Linked DNA regions of Homo sapiens: regions 2, 3, 4 and 5 are each linked to region 1. The links come from fine-mapping of genetic effects on gene expression. A gene starts in region 1. Each other region holds a variant in brackets. All regions are shown on one strand. Distances are from middle to middle. Region 1 holds the start of IFT74 (intraflagellar transport 74). Region 2 overlaps IFT74 (intraflagellar transport 74). Region 3 overlaps IFT74 (intraflagellar transport 74). Region 4 overlaps PLAA (phospholipase A2 activating protein). Region 5 overlaps IFT74 (intraflagellar transport 74).

Region 1 (4,122 bases):
AAAGCAACAGAACCTAATACATAATGATCCAAAGTCAAATAAGATATGGTGCCTACTCTAAGGAAGCTCAGAGGCAAATAAGTGAGATGTATTCCTATTCTCTATTCCTTTTTCATCATGAAAAAGAAATGGGGACAGGGATCAATACTTACTACCTAAATGAGCTTAAGCAAATTATTTAATCTCTTTAAAACTTGGATAATAGTATCTGTCCTGCCAATTTCAACTGTTAATATCTGTCAGGGTCCTTAAGTGCAAGGAACAGAAATCATCTATAAATGATATAAAAGCTGAAAATGAATTTATTAAAGGACATTAAGCAGCTCACAGACTCTCCCAGAAGCTGAAGAAACAAGCTAGAGGTTCTCCTCCCAATAAAGCCTCTGAGTACCTAACACTGCAGCTTGCAACAACACACTGATGCTGGACACTGGTTGCTGGTGATAGAACATTGCAGTCTCGGAAACGATGTAGTTACTGCGGCTGTCACCCTTACTTCAACAGACTCTCTGAAGTCCTGCTTCTGGTTGTCATTCAAGTTTGAGTTGAGTCCACCAAATTAGATTGGAGAGTCTAGCAAGCAATAATACTCATGTCCCAGTAATAAGGAAGACTAGGAAAGCCAGTATCTGTCACTTTCAGTTCCTGTAAGGGTGTTGGGGGGCAGGGTAAGGGAGAAACTCTGCCAAAAGGATGACAAATGGCCACTGCAAATAGGGTGAGCTCAAATGAGATAATTACATGAAAATGTTTCACAAACTAAGGGAGAATTCAGCCACATAACATTATCTCATTTTGTGTTGTATTGATTTTTAACTCCTCGAAGGCAGGCAAGTTGGAAATAATGTGTAAAATAATGTTAAAATCCCAATACATATGCAATCACATTTAAGCTGTTATCAATGAAGATTGGAAGGAAACATACAGTAAAAGTTATTTTATTAGAGAAGTGGGATTTAAGGTGAAGTAGTTCTTAAATTAAAAAAAAAAAAAAAAAGGACACTTTCCATTGAATTCACAGTCTTCCCCACAAACTTGGATCCAAATTCTAATGAAAGGAAGCTTAAAGACGCAAAGCTTCTGGTGAAAGCAGGAACGGAACAGTTGGTGCCAGAATCGCATCCATACTTCATGATGCGTTGTGTACGCTATGCCGTCCTAATAGGAAGGAAAACTACCACAAATTAGGAGTTTAGAAAATTGCACAATGCTGCCTACCACTTAACTTCAAATGTAACCTGTTAACAACGTTAGCCGACGTGAGGTTACCTAGGGACATAGCAAAACTCGCTAGAGTTACTTCAAGTAAGGCACACGGAGGTTGCTCTGATTATCAAGAAAACCAAACGTTCACATAAAATGTTTGTCTTCCAGCCGCCCCGCTGTTTTCCACTTTTTCCAAAAAGCACTGAAGCGTGGTGAAGAAACAAACATATCCTCAATTCTCGCGAGAGCTCCGTGTGTAACCAAGGGCTGAGGCGGAGGATTGGTCACTCAGGATGAGGAGCCTCCGCTATCCCGCCCCCGTTGCCGGGATACGCCGCGGCGCACGGCAGTTAGTGGGTAGGCCTGAGAGCCGAGGAAAACTGAGCGTGGGCCTCAGAAAGAAGTTAAGGCACCCGCGAGCCGGGCAACTGCCCTCCTTCCGCGCCGGCGGAGGTGAGAATCCCCGGGTCCCATCTCTTCCTCCCTCCCTCCCACGTCTGTTCTCTTGCCTTGGAGATGCTGATCCGCTCCAAACAAAACAAATTCAAACTCGGTCTTAGCTAACTGTTACCGTCGGGCCTGTAGCCAGGCCAGGCATGTACCAATTCTAGTCGAGCGAAGGTTGCGAACAGACCTCCTCCAACAGCCCGACCCCTCCCCGACCCCCCGCAGGAGACCCGCCAAGCACAGAGCAGAGGGAAGGACCGCGATGGGCTGAAGGATTTTAGTCAAAGCAATACATTTCTGCCTCTTACAGTGGAAGGGACTTATTTCTGTCTGTTGATCACAGTGCGGGCAGTTAGCAACTTTCCACTTATTCACCTGTGTGAGAATGGTTGGCTTAGGGAGGATAACGATAGTAATAATAATTAGAAGCAGATGTTTTAAATGTAATACTTATCGTCTTCACAACAGCCCTGCAAGGTAGATGTCACCCTTCTGTTTTACAGAAGATGAAATCCTGAGGGGTTAATTAAGGTGGCAAGATTATGCAGCCGCTAACTTTGTCAGCACTAGTTTGTATCGCTAATCATTCTGGATCCAAAGGCCAGGCTGCCTCTCTGTGTGAATAATTGGAAATTGTGTGACTCTTTGATTGAATAACCCCGAAGTTAGTGGTATATTTGTTGCTAATGCCCGCCTCTTAATCCCACTGGTAATAATATAATGGTAAGCTTTTTTTCACCACAGTAAAACGGTGGCAAAGAAAATTGGGTGAAATTTTTTATGTTGTACATTTTCTCAAAGTTAGCAGGAAACCTAGAGTAATATCTTTTCCACTGGAAAGAGATGTTTATTGTACTCGTTTTCTTCTGGAAAAACCATTTTGATCATACACCGTCTTCCTTTTCAAAGAGTCATTTCATGAAATTCCTTTTTCCATTTGAAATTCTTTTGCTTTGTACATAGAGTTCAAAATGGCAAGGAATTAGAATCAGGGAGCTAGTGGGGTCAGGAAGATTGATGTGAACATATTCAAATGAGATATCTGAATGGAAATTTCAGATAAACAATTGAAAACTCAAAATTGGTGCCCAGTTGAAAGGGCAGAACTGTAGACATTGATTAGTGAGCCGTACACATAGTTGGAGTTATAAAGATGCATGACTGTAGAAAGGATAGAAGCAGTCCAAGGACTGATTACGAGTAATGCTAAGAAAAGTCAGAAAAGTAGTACTGGACATAGAGTGTAGAAACAGAGAAATCATTTTAGTCCAACACACGCTTTGTTTGCCTTTTTTTTTTTTGAGACGGAGTCTTGCTCAGTCGCCCAGGCTGGAGTGCAGTGGCGCGATCTCGGCTCACTGCAAGCTCCGCCTCCTGGGACTACGCCCGCCACCACGCCCGGATAATTTTTTTTTTGTATTTTTAGTAGAGATAGGGTTTCACTATGTTAGCCAGGATGGTCTCCATCTCCTGATCTCGTGATCCACCCGCCTCGGCCTCCCAAAGTTCTGGGATTACAGGCGTGAGCCACCGCTCCCGGTCGCTTTGTTTGCTTTTTAACAATTTAGTAAATTTTTGTAATTGGCAATACCTTTATGTACGAGGAAATTTAAAAGATACAAGAGAGAACAAAGTTTTTGCTTATCACTGAGACAGATTTTGGGGATATAAAGATGATTAAGATTCAGCTCTTGCCATAAAGGGTGAGAAATACTTAAGCAGATCATTTCAAGTGGTGTGATAGGTTCTGGAATAAAGTAATACACAGGATGCATGGTAGCATGTAGAACAGGCCTATACACTGAAATTGAAGAAGACGAAGATTCCAAGACCAGTTATGGACTGGTCATGGAAGGATTCCCAGAGAAAGTAATAGGCAAAATGTGTGTTAGGCAAGGGGACCACTTAAGAGGCTGGTATAATAGTCCACCTGAGTCAGTGATGCCCTGAATTGGCCAGTGCTGTAGGAATAGAGAGTAAAGTACCTGTTAAACACTTAGGAACAAAATCAGTAGAACTAAACAAAACAAACTCAGTAGAACTATGTGACCAGCCATGGGAGTAAGGGAGAGGAAGATGTCAAGGACTAAATTTCTTACTTGTGTGACTAGGAGGTGACACCAAGAGGAAGGACAAATTTTGAGCAGATGATAATGAGTTTGGATTACATATGTTTATTTTGAAATATTTAGACATCTAAGTGGAGATGTTATTATTTGGATATAAACACCGCAAGCTGAGTGCTAAAATAAGGAAGTTGTGTGGAATCAGTTTATTAATTGTTAAAACCCTGAGTGTGGATAAGGGGGCCCAAGGGGAGTTTAGAGAGAGAAAAGAAAAAGATGGTGGATGGTATCTTAGAAAATGCTCTATATAAGGACAGATCAAGGAGACAGAAAAAAGAACCAGAAGAGAGGGAAGTGTCATGGAGATGTTTCATATAAATGTGGACACCAGTAAAGTAGGATG
Region 2 (4,122 bases), 53 kb after region 1:
TGAAAATAGATACTTTCCTTTCAATTTCTTTGAGCTCATATACCTATACAAATTGTAGCAGCAGGAAACACATTTGTTTTACTGTTGTAATTGAAGCTCCAAGTGAAGATACCACTTCTTCTCCAACAGTGAAACAAAAATAAATTGAAATTCCAGGTTGCTTTACTATGTTCATCTTTTATTTGGTTATTTTGAGATTTTTTTTGGTAGGGAAATTTCTGAGTTTAGGTTGTTTATTCTAGTAGTAGGATATGAATGTGTAGAAGGTGTGTAGGGGATATGTGGATCCACAAGCTTAGCTGGTGATTGTGAAAACTATAGAAGTTGGTATCTATGAGCGAAAGAGAGTAAATAGTGATAGGTTAATCAGATTTTGAAACTCAAAATAGAAATTAATGATCTTGGGAGTGAAAATGTGTGTTCAATCCAGCTTTTTATAAAATGTAAATCTTGAAAGTATTTAGATAAGTGGCATCTTACCTATTCTTTTTTCAGAGTTTTTCTCTACCCTATCAATAATTGACCTTGCCTAGGCAACAAGTGACATGTCATTGGTATTTCTTTTGATTACGTGATAAAAATGGTTATTGCTTCTAATTAATTTCACTATTACTACTTTTATAGGATTATGTTTGTAATGTTTATTGTGTTTTTAGAGAAATGAGCTTAATATTTTACAATGCTAAAAAATAGCAAAAATTTGTGAAATAGCAATGTTAACTAAAGCAGTAAGTAAAAGAGAACTTAAGCAAAGCATATTATTAATCTAAAGCCATAACTAAAAAATCAAATTGCACTGCAGGCCTCTCTACTCCCTAGTTCTGTCAGAGCCACACTGGATGATTTACACGGGAAACTTCTATACAGTATTTAATTTAGTCAGAAAAACTTATGGCTAAAGGATGCTTTAAAACCACAATTCTAAAACTTATTTGTCTTTTTTTTTTTTGAGATGGAGTTTTGCTCTTTTGCCCAGGCTAGAGTGAAGTGGCGCGATCTCAGCCCACTGCAACCTCTTCCCCACTGGGTTCAAGCGATTCTCCTGCCTCAGCCTCCCAAGTAGCTGGGATTACAGGTGCCCGCCACCACGTGTGGCTAATTTTTGTACTTTTAGTAGAGATGGGTGTTTTGTCGTGTTGCCCAGGCTGGTCTCGACCTCCAGACCTCAGGTGATCCACCTGCCTCAGCCTTCCAAAGTGCTGGGATTACAGACGTGAGCCACCGAGCGCAGCCTCTTATTTGTCTTTTGAAGGTATAACTTTAAAAAAGTATAAATGCATCCTCATATATATAAGTCATTAAGGATTTTTTGGTAATCTTTGTGATTTCTTAGTAAAATAAAATGGAGAGTAAGGAAATAGAGGAATTTAGGGATGGAGAAGAGAAAGATGTAAAAATAAGTTTGTGCTAATGGGGCCAAATTTTATATAGGTCAAATAGCATTTTTTAGTACAAATATAAAGACTTTTCAGTCACACACTGTGGTTGAATGTCTTTAAGTATCCTATTAAATTAGGACCATGACTTGTATAAAATAATTGGATATTTTTTCCTCAATATAGTATCAGGAATATTACGTGCTTCTGATTTTAGGAAAGAAAAACAAATCAGAAGTGTCGAAGAAGAAATTGAACAGGAAAAACAAGCAACAGATGACATTATCAAAAATATGTCTTTTGAAAACCAAGTCAAGTACCTAGAGATGAAAACCACAAATGAGAAACTGTTACAGGTAATACAAATTACTGCTGTGTGCCAAGCATGTATCATTCTTGCTACTAAAAGTATAGTTTGAATATCAGCAGCATCAGCATCCCCTGAGAACTTGACTATACTTTGAGATCAGTTTTCATTTTAACAAGGTCCCCATCTGATTCATA[C/T]GTATATTCACATTTCAGAAGAATTTATTTAGAAAACTTCATTTTCATCTGCTGTTTGATGACCTAGCTTTTACTCTTATTATTTTTGGTTTACTTCTATTTATTCATTTTGCATTTCATAAAGACATGAAAATACTCGCATTTATAAAAATACTTGTCTATAAATATTTGCATTTATAAAAGTACTTTTCTATAAATGTTTGCATTGATAAAAATACTTGTCTGTAAATTAAAAAGTCTGTAAATACTTGCAGTTACAGACTTTTAATGCAAACATTAAAAGGCCTCATAGGTGGAGGTTGCAGTAGTGAGCTGAGATTGCACCACTGCATTCCAGCCTGGGCAACAGAGCGAGACTCTGTCTCAAAAAAAAAAAGGCCTCATAGACCAGATCCATATATATATTTACTTTCCTTTTCCTTCCTGCTTAATAAACAGCTAACCTTTTTACCTGTTAGCATTATGATTTGAATGGCTATTGTCCTGTAATTATATTGCCTAAATTTCCATTTTTAAAAATTAATTTTTTTATTGATACACAATTGTACATATTTATGGGGTACATGTGATATTTCCATGCACGTATGCAATGTATAATGATCAAATCGGGATAATTAGGATATTCATCACCTCAAACATTTGGCATTTTTTTTGTGCTGGAAACATTTTTTTTTTTTTAATTTAAAAAAAATTTTTTTTTTGAGACGGAGTCTCGCTCTGTCGCCCAGGCTGGAGTGCAGTGCCCATCTCGGCTCACTGCAAGCTACGCCTCCCGGGTTCATGCCATTCTCCTGCCTCAGCCTCCCAAGTAGTTGGCACTACAGGCGCCCGCCACCACGCCCGGCTGATTTTTTGTATTTTTTTAGTAGGGACGGGGTTTCACCGTGTTAGTCAGGATGGTCTTGATCGCCTGACCTCGTGATCCGCCTGCCTCGGCCTCCCAAAGTGCTGGTATTACAGGCATGAGCCACCGCGCCCGGCCTTATGCTAGAAACATTTTGAATCTCCTTTTCTGGCTATTTTGAAACATACAATTAATTACTGATAACTATAGCCACCCTAGTGTTCTATCAAACATGAGAATTTATTCCTTCTCTCCCCCACACCACCCCATGCCCCCAACTGGGCACCACCTTCTCAGCCTCTGGTAACCATCATTCTACTACCCCCTTTTTTTTGTTTTTTTTTTTTTGTTTTTTTTGAGACGGAGTTTCGCTCTGTCGCCCGGGCTGGAGTGCAGTGGCGCGATCTCGGCTCACTGGAAGCTCCGCCTCCCAGGTTCATGCCATGCTCCTGCCTCAGCCTCCTGAGTAGCTGGGACCACAGGTGCCCGCCACCACGCCTGGCCAATTTTTTATGTGTTTTTAGTAGAGACAGTGTTTCACCGTGTTAGCCAGGTGATCCGCCCCCCTCGGCTTCCCAAAGTGCTGGTATTACAGGCGTGAGCCACTGTGCCCGGCCGAGATCCACTTTTTTAGGCTCCTACAGATGAGTGAGAACATGCAATATTAAATAAGCAATTTAAGTCCCTGTTGAGGGCATATTGAGAATCCTCTCAATACTCAGTCATGGTGGTTCCCTTTCATGCCCAGATGGCCCTTAACTAAAGATTAAGCAAAGAATTAGGCCCCATAAATGCCAATAATGATTATAGTTTTAGTTTCTTAGACATTCCTTTGCTGACAATTTAGTAACCTTTTTATTTTAGAGAAGATTTCTAAGATACTGTGAAGCGTTGAAGAAAAAGTATGGCCTGGCCAAGATGGTGAAACCCTGTCTCTACTAAAAACACAAAAATTAGCCAGGCATGGTAGCAGGCCCCTGTAATCCCAGCTACTCGGGAGGCTGAGGCAGGTACTTGGTTGATCCCGGGAGGCGGAGGTTGCAGTGAGCCGAGATCATGCCACTGCACTCCAGCCTGGGCAACAGAGCGAGACTCTGTCTCAAAAAGAAAAAAGAAAGAGTATGATAGAAATGCCAAAATAGTACCAAAATATAGTTAATCTTGTATGGGATAATGAATGAGTAAACAGTTTAAGGATCTTATCTTAGGAGTGAACCATATTTATATTTACATATACGTGTATGTATGTGTACATGTGAACCATATTTATATTTACATATATGTGTATGTATGTGTGCATGTGTTATATGTGTGTGTACACAGTATAGAGAAATTAGGCAAAAGATGTGAAAACACGGTTACAAATCAAAATTTTAAATAATAATCTTAAACAATGAC
Region 3 (4,122 bases), 110 kb after region 1:
ATGGCACCACTGCACTCCAGCCTGGGCGACAGAGCAAGACTCCATCTCAAAAAAAAAAAAAAAAAAAAAAAAAAAAAAGCTGAAAATGAAATTGACTGAGTTATTTTTTTCTAGGAATTTTTTTAAAGACTCAAATTTAGTTCAACACCTACTTATTAAATACCAGATATGTACAAAACCCTGGGCCAAATTAAATGAATATGACTGTTTCAATTCTACAGTAGTTAAGAGGTGTGTGTGTGTGTGTGTGTGTGTGCGCACGCACGTGCCCTCAAGTAACTAATAGAAAGCAGATTTTGGGAGTTGCCAAAAAAGGAGTACAAAGACTTAATGTGGCATAGTGATTAAGTGCCCAGATTTTGGAGTTGGGCGATCCAATTTTAAATGTCAACTCTACTGCTTGTAAGTTACAAACTGGACAATTTAATCTGTTCAAGCTAGAACTGTATCATCTCTTAAGATTCAGTTTTCCGGGATCACAGGGCTTGGGTAAAGTTAAACATTATCAGTAAATCTTCTGATAAACATGGCAAGAATTTCTCTTTTGTTTAGAGACAGGGGTCTCGCCAACTTAGCCAGGCTGGTCTCAAACTCCTAGGCTCAATCCCACCTCGGCCTGCTCAAGTGCTGGGATTAGAGACATGAGCCACTGCTCTCGGCCCCAGAATTGTATCATCTCTAAAATCTCTAAAATATAGTTAATATTACCTTCTCATAGTGTTGGGAGAATTATATATAACCATATAGTTATATATATCCACAAGTATATATATATATATATATGTACATAATATATAATATATAGTTGTTTGTTGTTTATATGGTTCTACCTTGAATATCTGGGCAGCAAAGGGAGGTAAACTAAGTAAGATCCTGAGAAGTTTGACTTCCAAGCTCATCCATGTTTTAGCCATTTCAACTCCATTATATGTCTACAAAGATGATACTTATGTCTCATCTTATTGTTTACTTTTAGTTTGATTACAGGAGGCAGCAAGCAGCTGTTGAGAACATGTGTTGTGAAGTTGTAACAGATATTTCCTTAAAAGTTGTTTCCTATTCCCTTCTTTGACCCATTCAAGGATGTCTCTGCCTGGAGAACTAGATCCTGACTCAGTGGCAGCATAGGTTCTCCCCCAGGGTGGTGCTGAACTTCAGCTCAGAAGCAGCCTGGACCCCATCTTACCTCCAGATAAGGTGTTTTAGGTACTCTGTTGCCAGTGTTAGTGCAACTTAGTTTAAAAATAGAGGACTTGTTCACAGTATGCTCTAAGTCTCACACTGGAGTTTTGTGCAACATAAAGTAGGTGATTTTGGAGCAGAGCGAAGTCTAGAAATTTGCCTTAAATTATTTGTGGTACTCTAGAGAACGTGGTATGTGTATGTGTGTATGTGTGTTTGAATATAGGAACTAGTTCATTGAACGTTAGATTGTTCTAAGACCAGAATTAGATTAAAAATGCATAACATATTAAGTATTAAAAAGTGTTTATATTGTATATGAATTTTTTGCGGTAAGTTTAGCTTGGCATTTTAGGTTTTAATTGATGCTTAATCTGTTAAAATGATGTACTGTATTTTAAAGTATTCTAATTGTGCTTTTTTGTACCATCTTCAGTATGAAAAATGTCAGTATTTAGTTCCTTTCTCAGGCACAATTAGATTTTTATTGACATTGTTTTCCCCCTTAACTCATGTAATTAGTCATAGCAACCAAGAGTCAAGAGAGTGATTACCAGCCAATTAAGAAAAATGTGACCAAGCAGATTGCAGAGTACAATAAAACCATCGTGGATGCTTTACATAGCA[C/T]CAGCGGAAACTGAGTTTAAGTCCACTGAAAGTCTCTAAGGAAGTATCCTCTTGCTGCTAAACTTGGTACAAGTTGACTACCAAAAAAAAAAAAAGCTTACTTTTGGAGTTTACCTAAAATTTCTGAATGTTATAATTTTTGTGGCCTCTTTTAAGAATGATATTTTAAAATAGTAAATAGTTCAATAAATGGTTTGCATATTAAAAAGTACCATCTTCTTTTCTTTTTATGCTACTTGTATTTGAACCAAGAGATAAAGAAACTAAAAGTGACCGTTGAAATTTATTTAGCTGGTATAATCCATCTATGGCAACAAATGAGATAAGCTTTTCTTGTATCAACTCTAGGACGGATGCATGGAGTATGATTCTGATTTAGCACTTAGATCAACCTTGTCAATTTTTACTTCTAGAAAAAATTAGTAAGATTAGAAGGGAGATTTTTAGCTTTGAATGTTACTTCTCAAATAGGTTATATTTGATGTGTATTAGACCATATAATGTCACAGGTAAATATATAACATATATTCTTTATATAGCAGTTATACCTAAAGATTTGGAATTAGAAACTTTTAATCTTTGCAATTCTTAAAATATTTTTTCACATATATATACCTGGAAGAACATTAGGTAAAAGACTACATTTATAGTGGGCTGTTTTGGACTATGGCTACTGCTGTTCATTGCCACCCTGCAGTATGCATTTACTCTCTTGTACTATTAGGAGAACTTAAGTAGATTAATTTATAAACATTAGCCAGAATATTTGGGGAAAAAAGCTAGAAGAGGTAGGATTGGGAGAGAGGCATAGAGTCTGGAAGACATTATATTAACTGTAGATGTATCTTCTCTTATCGTGCAGGAATGAGTCACCTTGGCCAGCATAAAATATTACTTAAAACTATCCTGTTTTTGCTCTGATATCATGTTCACTAAGTAACTCTACTTTTCAGTATTTCTGAAACAACACATTGATTTCTTAAACCAAAATAGCTTTATTGAGATATTATTTACATACTTTAAAATTTACTCATATATGTTGATTTTTAAAAATAAATATTTATAATGGTAAATTATTCAAATTCAGTCTATATACATTTAAATAAAGGAGTGAGCATTGTTGAGTTTGCTGAACTCTGGATTACTAATATGGCTGAAGATCCTGGACATTCATTAAGGTAGCATTCATAAAATGTGTTCCATAAATCCTGAGCATCTTGAGTTATTAATAGTGTTATGCCTCCAAAGGATTCATGGTCAAAGAAGTTTGGGAAACGTTGTCTGAAACAAAGGTGAATTATTTTATTTTTTCTTGACTGCTCATAACCCTTAATATGCTAATGTATAATAAGCTCAAGAAGAATATATACTGTAAAGCATTTCCCAGAGATAGTTGTCCACAAAACCCTAACTTTCACAGAGCCTAGGTCACATGAGATGTGTCATTCCAAGAAATAGACTTTGTACACCAAATAGACTTCATACACTAAAATAATTTCATCTACTCAAGTCCTCTGGGTGGCTCTATGGCCTTTTTCAGATGACTCCTGAGTATGTCTCTTTTTAGCCACCCTCAGCTGTTTTATGCTGTGATTGTATGGGGTTTTCTATTGGAAATTGGTAGCAGAAAGTGCTTATAAAATTTCACAAGGGAAAAAAACTCTTTTAGCAGTTAAAGAGAATGAAATCTGAAATTCAGTAGATAAAACAGGTAATAGATTTTGATGACAGTTTGCAGCCCTTCGTTCATTCATAAAGTATTACTGTAATTTGGTGATTAGGAGCCTTTATGGATATACCCGACTGCTGAAAAACATTCATCTTTTATACAGTAACAAACAGAGGTATGATTGAGCATAGAGTTTAGGCAAGAGAACTGACTACTATGGTCTCTTAATCACATTGATTCTATTTCGTGGATACTTCCAAGGAGGAAGGGAATCTGGAAAACATGTTTGTGGATAGGTAATCTTTGTTTTCCTCATTTGAAAGCAAATTTAAATGCCTTTACTTTTTCCTTAGGTTTTTTTTTATGATTTCTACTTAAGTGTTCTTGACATTTTACTGCACCCTTTTAAATAACCAACTTAGTAATTTTTACTATTAGTAATAAGGGTTTTTTTCTGAGTGGTGGGATTATGGGTGATTGTAATCTTCCTTGGGCTTTTTGGTATTTTCAAAATTGTCTGTGATGTACATTTAATACTTAGAAATGCAATAAAATTCAAATAAAGTACTATATGCAGTTACTACTTTAACTGACAGAAAGGATGTAGTAAAAACTCTTAAGTCCTTGACTCTAGAACTGAACCA
Region 4 (4,122 bases), 27 kb before region 1:
TGATTTCTTCCATATATGAAGATAACACTGCTGACTGACCATCAGTAAGGCTTATGTTTAGAAGTTTCAGGCTAAAAGTATTAAAATGACAACCAAAAATATAACTATATACCAAAAATTACATACATATATGCAGAAGCACATATGCATATTATATATAGCTTATCAGACAGCTATTTATCAGTCTACATTTGGCTGTTTTATGAGAGGTTTCATTATCTTTTTAAATGTATTAGATATTAACTCATCAGAAAAATTACATTAACTCAAATTAATAGCTTAAATATACTAATGTTTTTCAAATATTTTCATGCTTGTAAACTTCTGAGAAAAAAAATCTGAGCAAATAAAAAGCAATGATATTATAAAACTTGTCTACCCTGATCTTACCTGAAAAAGTCCTCTCACATCTTCCAGCCTTCCACAGTTTAACAGTCTTGTCTGCTGATCCAGTCAACATTAAGCCCTGTTCAGGTAAGATCTTTACCGCCCACACTGCAGCTGTATGACCCTGTGAGTAAAATGAGTATCAATTTAAGTTGCCACAGAATCATTCAACTTAATTATTCTTTAGAATATTTACACAGAACTACTGTACCTGCAAGGTCATCATGCACTTGTCATTCAGCCAGACTTTAGCAGTGGTGTCCCATGAACCACTAAGTAATGTCCCAAATTTTCCAGATGATAGACTACAAACTAAGGAAAAAACATCATTGGATAACACATTTTCATACAGAAAAATGCTCAACATTGAAAGTTACTAAAGCATTCCAATTTTAAAAACACTCTTTGAAGTGGCAGTATCTTAGCTAACTAAGGCTCAATTCAGCAGAGACGCATAAGAGTACAGTGGTCAAGAGCAGACTCTGGTGCCAGACTGCCTGGGCGCAAGGCCTAGCTGTGCCACTTACAAGCCACGTAACTGCAGAAATATTACTCAAAATCAGATTCCTTGTCTGTGAAACGAGGGAGCGGAACTTAAGTGAGCTACACAATCCTTCCAGCTTTAACAAATCATAATAGGGAGATAATGTAAATGATTTTGAAACACTGTTTATATAAATATTTAAGGCTGCTTTCATGACAGTGACCATAAAACCTGCAGCCAAGCTCAATGTCCAAAAGTAATGAAGTGGTTAATTAAATGTCTTACTTTCTTGATGTGAAATTATGCAGGCTAAAAATTACAAATATGAAAAATTATGCCAGGCACAGTGGCTCACACCTGTAATCCCTGCACTTTGGGAGGCCAAGGCAGGCGGATTGCTTGAGCTCAGGAGTTAGAGACCGGCCTGGGCAATGTGGAGAGACCTCATCTCTACTAAAAATACAAAAAAATAGCTGGGTGTGGCGGTATGCGCCTGTGTTCCCAGCTACTTGGAAGGCTGAGGTGGGAGGATTGCTTGAGCCCAGGGCACAGAGGTTGCAGTGAGCTGTGATCATATACCACTGCACTTCACGCCTGGGTGACACAGCAAGATTCTGTCTTTAAAAAAAAAGAAAGAAAAGAAAAATTAGCCAGGTGGAGTGGCTCATGCCTGTAATCCTAGCATTTTGAACTGAGCTCAGGAGTTTGAGACCAGCCTGGGGCAATATAGTGAGACTCCAGCTCTAAAACAAAAATTTTAAATTAGTCAGACATGGTGTCACGCGCCTGTCGTCCCAGTAAGAGAATTGCTTGAGCATGGGAGGCCAAGGCTGCAGTGAGCTGTGAGAGCAGCACTGCATTCTGGTATGACCAAGAAAGTGAGACCCTCTCTCAAAAGATAAAAGAAAAAAAAAGAAAAATTATCTTAGGAAAGAAGAGTATCATTGGCGGTCGAAGCACAGCCATAAAGAACCTTGGATTGGGAAACCTTTTTCCTAGACCAGAAGGAAGCAATCACAAAAGTCTCTCTACCCTGAGCTGAGGATCCTTGAGACAGCTACTTATTTGGATTTCAGAATGGCTCTAGATCAAAAACTGTTGTCTTGCACTGCTTCCTCTTCTGAATGAGTGTTTGCTCTGATTATCCTATTCCTTTTCCATAATTGTATATTGGGTATGGTTGACAGCTTACTTATAAGCATCACCTCTCTGATGTTTAGAATACTTAGCATCACTCAGAGGAGACTTTTGGATTGTTTGATGAAGCTGAATCGTTGATGACCAGAAAGCATGCTGTGGTAACTCTCCCTTTTTGGACACATGGGAGAATGGTACTTTCCTCCTCCATTTGAAGTTAGGCATAGCCATGATACTTGCATTAGTCACCAGACAAAACGGTAGCTGACACTTTCAGTCACACA[CAT/C]GTTTTTGGTGTTTTTTTAAAATTGATTTTTTTAATTCTCTACTACTGTGACATTCAAGGAAGGCACATGCTTTTAAAAGCCAGTGCCTTATTATTATTATTATTTTTTTTTTTTTTTTGAGACAGAGTCTCGCTCTGTCGCCCAGGCTGGAGTGCAGCTGTGTGATCTCGGCTCACCGCAAGCTCTGCCTCCCGGGTTCACGCCATTCTCCTGCCTCAGCCTCCCGAGTGGCTGGGACCACAGGCGCCCGCCACCACGCCCAGCTAATTTTTTTGTATTTTAGTAGAGATGGGGTTTCACCGTGTTAGCTAGGATGGTCTCGATCTCCTGACCTTATGATCCGCCCGCCTTGGCCTCCCAAGTGCTGGGATTACAGGCATGAGCCACTTCGCCCAGCCAACCAGTGCCTTATTAACCATGTTGCCCTTTGACTGCTCCAACAACTACTGAAGCATGTGTGGAGAGAAAGCCCCATTAGCCTGGGTCCCTGAGAAAATCTGATGAACAGAGTCCCTTTATTAATCCATGTTGAACATGTAGGGTTAATGAGAAATACTCATATGTTACATCACTGAGATTTTTTTTTTTTTTTTTGAGATGGGAGTTTTGCTCTTGTTGCCCAGGCTGGAGTGCAATGGTGCAATCTTGGCTCACTGCAACCTCCGCTTCCGAGGCACAAGTGATTCTCCTGCCTCAACCTCCCACGTAGCTTGGATTACATGCATGCGCCACCATGCCCGGCTAATTTTTTTGTATTTAGTAGAGACAGGGTTTCACCATGTCAGTCAGGCTGGTCGTGAACTCCTGACTTCAAGTGATCCACCCACCTCGGCCTCCCAAAGTGCTGGGATTACAGGCATGCACCACCATGCCCAGTCTGAGATCTTAATAGTTGTAACTTGGGTGCTCTTTACATTCTTCCACAAATCAGTATGATATAATTGGATAAAATACCATTTCCCAGTAAAAGAAAAAAAAAAACAGGACTTCTTGGCAAAAGTGCTGGTTTGAGGTCTAGAGCAAGAAGTGTACAAACTGAACCTAGAACATTCTGTAATAAAGCAAGGAAGACTACTGAAGGTCTTATAAAAAGGTGACAGGAGCCAATTTAAAGAGGTTTCCAATGGCCAGATATGGAACAATTTGAGAACTGAAAAAAAAAAAAAAAATTCAGGAAACAACTCCTTCTGCAAACCAGTAAATAAATTGGGAGAAGGGTCAAGGAAAGCATTTATTCTGTCTTTTCTGTATAGAAGTCCCACATGGTAACCAGTTGATGTGGAAAGATCTATACAGAAAAGTCTTGGCGATCAAATGCAGAAATAATATTAGAATTACAGTACAATCATTTTGTAAACCTTAATAAAATATTGAATCTAGGCAATGATTATCAGTAGCTGCTAAAAATTACCATTATGTGAAAGGCTGATGGGAACTTTATAATGAAAGAAAGATACAACACTTGAACCCACTGATCAATCTTAATATCACAAAAAGATATTGTGTGCTTCCTGATGTGATACAATAGAAAATACAGAATACCACCTATACTGTTGCCAAAAACTTGAATCTGAACCTGATAAAGCTACTAGATCTATTTAACAGCTTACAAGAAATATAGGTGACTGAAGAACACATTAAAGGAAACAAGGCTTTAACCAGTAAAACTGAGATTGTGGGAAATTCTACAGCTAAAATAATCTGGTTTTAAGCAACAAGAAAAAAAGAAAGAAACTGACAGATTGAAAGATGTAGGGCTGGGCACGGTGGCTCATGCCTGTAATCCCACCACTTTGGAAGGCCGAGGCAGGCAGATCACCAGAGTTT
Region 5 (4,122 bases), 84 kb after region 1:
CTTGAAGATTCTTCCAGCATAAATGATCTTTCCGATGTCCTGTTAGAAGGTTCAAGTTAGCCTTGTGTTTCACCACTTACCTACAGTGCTGCGCATCTCACCACCTCACCATATGGGCACCATGGGCACCAAATAGAAATTATAATCGTCATCATCGTCAAATGAGGGTTATCAAGAGAGAAAAGCGACAGTTTATGCTTCTTTTTTTTTAATTTTTAAATTTTTTGTAAAGACAGGATTCACTATTTTGCCCAGGCTCGTCTCGAACTCGCAGCCTCAAGCAGTCCTCTTATCTTGGCCTCCCAAAGTATTGGGATCATAGGTGTGAGCCACTGTGCTCAGCCAGAAGAGCCAGAGTTTTGATGCGTCTTAATGTACTCTTTCAGGTCATTAAATGAAAGTCATCTGCAAGTGTTGATAGAAAATGTGGCTGGGCGTGGTGGCTCATGCCTGTAATTCCAACACTGTGGGAGGCTGAGGCAGGAGGATTTCTTGAGGTCAGGAGCTTGAAATCAGCCTGGACAACATAGACCCCATTTCTATTTTTAAAATAAAAATAAAACAAAAAGTGTTACATTGTTGCTGATGTATACTGTGTAGTTTGCCCTACAGTGGTTGCATCTGTACTGAACATGTACAGTCTTATTTTCCTTGTCATTATTCCCTAGACAACACAGTGTAACAACCATTTACAATATATTAGGTATCATAAGTAATCTAGGGATGATTTAAAGTATGTAGCAGGAGGGTATATGTAGGTTATATGCAAATACTGTGCCATTTTATGTAAAAGACTTGAACATCCTCAGGTTTTGTTATCTACAGAGGGGTGGGGGTACTGAAACCAGTCCCCATCAGATACCAAGGAATGACTATTTTATATACTAACTTGCTGCTTACTGTAATAATGGTATGTGAAAAGTAGATGGGAGAGATAGACTGAATGCAAAAAGATGGAATTTTATAGGCCCCCACAACTAATTAAAATTGAAATAGGAGTCAGGGAGGAGAAAGTGTTCTGGCTCACTAAAATATGTGAAAATGTTAGAAGGGGTTTAGATAACTCAATATGAATTAATGTGATACAGCCTTGAAAACGGCTGAAATCCTAGATTGCATAACAAAAAATGGTTATGTAGACTATGGAGAGTGACATCTTCTTGGAATCTTAAGTTTCTTGGCATAATATGTTAAAAGGGTTAGAGAAAAACTAGAGCTCGTTCATAGCAGAGTGACCAGAATGGTAATAGGGATAGAAACCATGCCATATAGAAGATATTGAGGCCAGGTGCAGTGGCTCACGCCTGTAATCCCAGCACTCTGGGAGGCTGAAGTGGGGGGATCACTTGAGGTCAGAAGTTCAAGACCATCCTGGCCAACATAGTGAAACCCTGTCTCTGCTAAAAACAAAAATTAGCTGGGCATGGTGGCGTGTGCCTGTAGCCTCAGCTAGCTGGGAGGCTGAGGTAGGAGAATCGCTTGAACCTGGGAGGCGGAGGTTGCAGCTGAGATTGCACCATTGCACTCCAGCCTGGGCAACAGAACGAGACACTGTCTCAAAAAAAAAAAAAAAAAAAAAAAGAAGGAAAGGTACTGGGAGACTTTGCGTGCTTCAGAAGTATTCCAAGTGCTAAGAAACAGTCTGGCTGTGCAAAAGTCCTGTGGAGTTTTTTCTTGCCCCGTCTCCCTGATTTTGTTTTCTGTTGACCTTTCAACTCCAAAATCAGTAGGCTTTGCTGAGTTGGGGACCTTGAGTTCAGGAGAGTTACTAGTACATGCCTTGTTGTGTATTGATCAGGAGAGAAGATTGGGATAGCCACCTATTTGGAAAATGGTAATCAGACCTTCTTAGGGGCAGAACTACTTCTCAGAGTATAAAAGCCTATAAAGCCTGAGTCAGGAGAACGTCATTTGATGCCAGAGAAGTAAAAGTATGGGGTGAACTTCCCTTGCAGTGAGGACAGAGGTAGTTTTGGTGGTGCTCAGACTATTGGCAGTGCAAGAAGAGCATATCTCCCTTACTGCACTGCTGGCTATAGCAGAGACTATAAAAAAGCAATGGTGTCCTTTCTACAGTAGCCCCAGTCTTTTGTTAACAGCACATACGCATTTCTTCTTTCCTACTTGAGGGATGAAAAAGCCTGAATTTATAGTATACATTTTTGTATACTTGTCTTATTAGAGTATAAATTCTTCAGAGGAAAATATTTTACTTTTTTCTTTAATCCCCATGTTACCCGATAAAGTACCTTGCTGGTATAATTCCTGTGTAAAATCCTCCTGAAGTCTTTTCACGCATCTGGTTACCACAGCACTTCATACATTCCTGTCAGAGCACTTATGTTGCATTATAAATTTTTGGTTTTGTACACCTAATGGAGTGTAAGCCCTTTGAGAATAGGGTGG[A/G]AACTGTCTTACTCAGTTTGATATCCCAAAACCTATTACAGTATCTGGCACTTAGTATCTGATAATCAGTAAATTTATCGGAAATAAATAAATGAGTATAGAAGTATGCGCACATCAAATGCTCCGAATTAAAGGATATCTCCAAAATTACCTTCCTTTTACCGTTGTGTCCCTTTCCCTCTCCCTTGGTCTCCTCATTGTTGATTCTACTACATTAGACCCTTCTGCTTACTTGCTGGTACCTCCATTGTGATACACTGATTTGCTTCCGTCTATCTACAATCTCATCCTGTCCTGTGATATTGAATCTAAGGATATATTTGCTAAAAACCATTATGTTTTACCCTACCTTAGGACTGCCTACATTTACACTGCCTTTATGAGCAACTCAGATACTAATCCTCCACTGAGAAATCACCAAATAGAGAAGTTCACTAATGCTCTGACCACTCTCCTTCTTAGCAATAGTGATATTGGAGGAAGTTTTATGAAGCTTGGGAATCTGCTGAGATGTGTAGGAGCTCTGTCCCATCTAATCCAGCTGGCCAGCTGTACAGCTGTAAATGTTAACCAGTTACATCTTCCAGCTCAATCTGTTGGCAACTAGGAGGATGACTTTTAGGAGAGAAGGAGGGAGGAGTCTCCTCTCAGGTTTCTGACTTGAATGATGAATGGATGGTAAGGACAGCCAAATGTAATAGGGAATAAAGAGAGGGAAGACTATGAGTTTAATTATGAGTATACTGAGTTAGGATGTCCTGAAAGGGCTTCCAAATCAATATATATAGTAAGCATTTAGATTAAAGAATCTAAAACTCAGAGAATATATTAAATTTGACAGTTCTTAAACCACAAGAATGTATGAAATTGCCATGGATATAGCGTTAGAAGTTCATTAAGAACAGAACTCTAGAATATAAATGAAGAAGGAAGCAGACCCATGAAGAGAAGACAGAAAAATAATGATCTGAGAGTAAGAAACGCCAGAGAAGCCCTCCCATCCCCGCAAAAAGCAAAAATAAAACATAGAGGAAAACAAAGAAAATTGAAAAGTTGTACCAATAGTGTCAAATATTACAGAGTAAGATAACTGACTGCCGTTTGAATTTGATCATTAAGCAGTTGTATAATCTCACTGAGAACAATTTCATTGGAACAGGAGGAGGAAAAGCCTCATTGCAGTGTCTTGGGGTTTAAAAGCAAGATGAGAAACTGGAAACATCATGTGTAGGAATTCTCTTAAGATTAAAAGAAAAAAGATAAGATGATAGTTAAATCCTTGTAAAGTCTAGGATCCAGGCCTCCCTCCTAATCCCTTAATGCCTGACCAGTCTCCCAAGAGTGGAACTTAAATAGCCAGAACAAGAAACTAGGACTTTCTTGGAAACATGGGCCATGGCAGGTTCAGGAGATAGTAGCTTTTCTGCCACTTCACATGGGCAATGATATTTATATGCACATCTTCCTCCTATAAGGGTATCCCAGATCATGTGTGCTGCAAACTCCAACTCTTTCTGTTTCCCACTCAAAAACCTGTCTGTAGTATATTTTACAAATGTGTGTATATATATAAACACACACACATATACAGACAAAGTTTGTTTAATAACAGAGTACCTCTGGCCTCCTCTTCACAGTTAATCAGGGGGCGTCAGTGTATTTTGAGACCATGGTTGATCATTTGAACTGAGTAGTAGTTGAGTAAAGTTGCTAATC

What was found. PIP is the estimated chance that this variant, and not a neighbour inherited with it, causes the effect. A credible set is the group of variants that fine-mapping cannot tell apart.
Region 2: its variant is the best candidate, but not a certain one, in a credible set for the expression of IFT74 in whole blood (TOPMed, PIP 0.88).
Region 3: its variant is the best candidate, but not a certain one, in a credible set for the expression of IFT74 in whole blood (INTERVAL, PIP 0.63).
Region 4: its variant is the best candidate, but not a certain one, in a credible set for the expression of IFT74 in whole blood (TOPMed, PIP 0.83).
Region 5: its variant is the best candidate, but not a certain one, in a credible set for the expression of IFT74 in coronary artery (GTEx, PIP 0.84).

Annotation. Positions count from the first base shown.
Region 1 is chr9:26,954,858-26,958,979 of GRCh38, forward strand. It overlaps IFT74 (intraflagellar transport 74), which reads left to right and starts at 1,555. Exons shown (of 20, transcript NM_025103.4): 1 at 1,555-1,659. IFT74-AS1 (IFT74 antisense RNA 1) reads right to left here and starts at 1,450. Exons shown (of 2, transcript NR_121605.1): 1 at 1,270-1,450; 2 at 923-1,158. RefSeq lists enhancers at 767-1,502, 1,503-2,237 and a silencer at 2,834-3,128.
Region 2 is chr9:27,007,427-27,011,548 of GRCh38, forward strand. IFT74 (intraflagellar transport 74) reads left to right here. Exons shown (of 20, transcript NM_025103.4): 9 at 1,594-1,732. Among named protein-coding and RNA genes, the nearest start is that of LRRC19, 3.8 kb to the left of the region's middle. The variant C/T (reference allele first, on the strand shown) is at 1,881.
Region 3 is chr9:27,060,914-27,065,035 of GRCh38, forward strand. It overlaps IFT74 (intraflagellar transport 74), which reads left to right. Exons shown (of 20, transcript NM_025103.4): 20 at 1,705-4,122. The coding sequence ends at 1,823. Among named protein-coding and RNA genes, the nearest start is that of TEK, 46 kb to the right of the region's middle. The variant C/T (reference allele first, on the strand shown) is at 1,810.
Region 4 is chr9:26,927,710-26,931,831 of GRCh38, forward strand. PLAA (phospholipase A2 activating protein) reads right to left here. Exons shown (of 14, transcript NM_001031689.3): 3 at 599-699; 4 at 391-511. Among named protein-coding and RNA genes, the nearest start is that of PLAA, 17 kb to the right of the region's middle. The variant CAT/C (reference allele first, on the strand shown) is at 2,293.
Region 5 is chr9:27,038,987-27,043,108 of GRCh38, forward strand. All of the region lies in intron 13 of IFT74 (intraflagellar transport 74), which reads left to right. Among named protein-coding and RNA genes, the nearest start is that of LRRC19, 35 kb to the left of the region's middle. The variant A/G (reference allele first, on the strand shown) is at 2,407.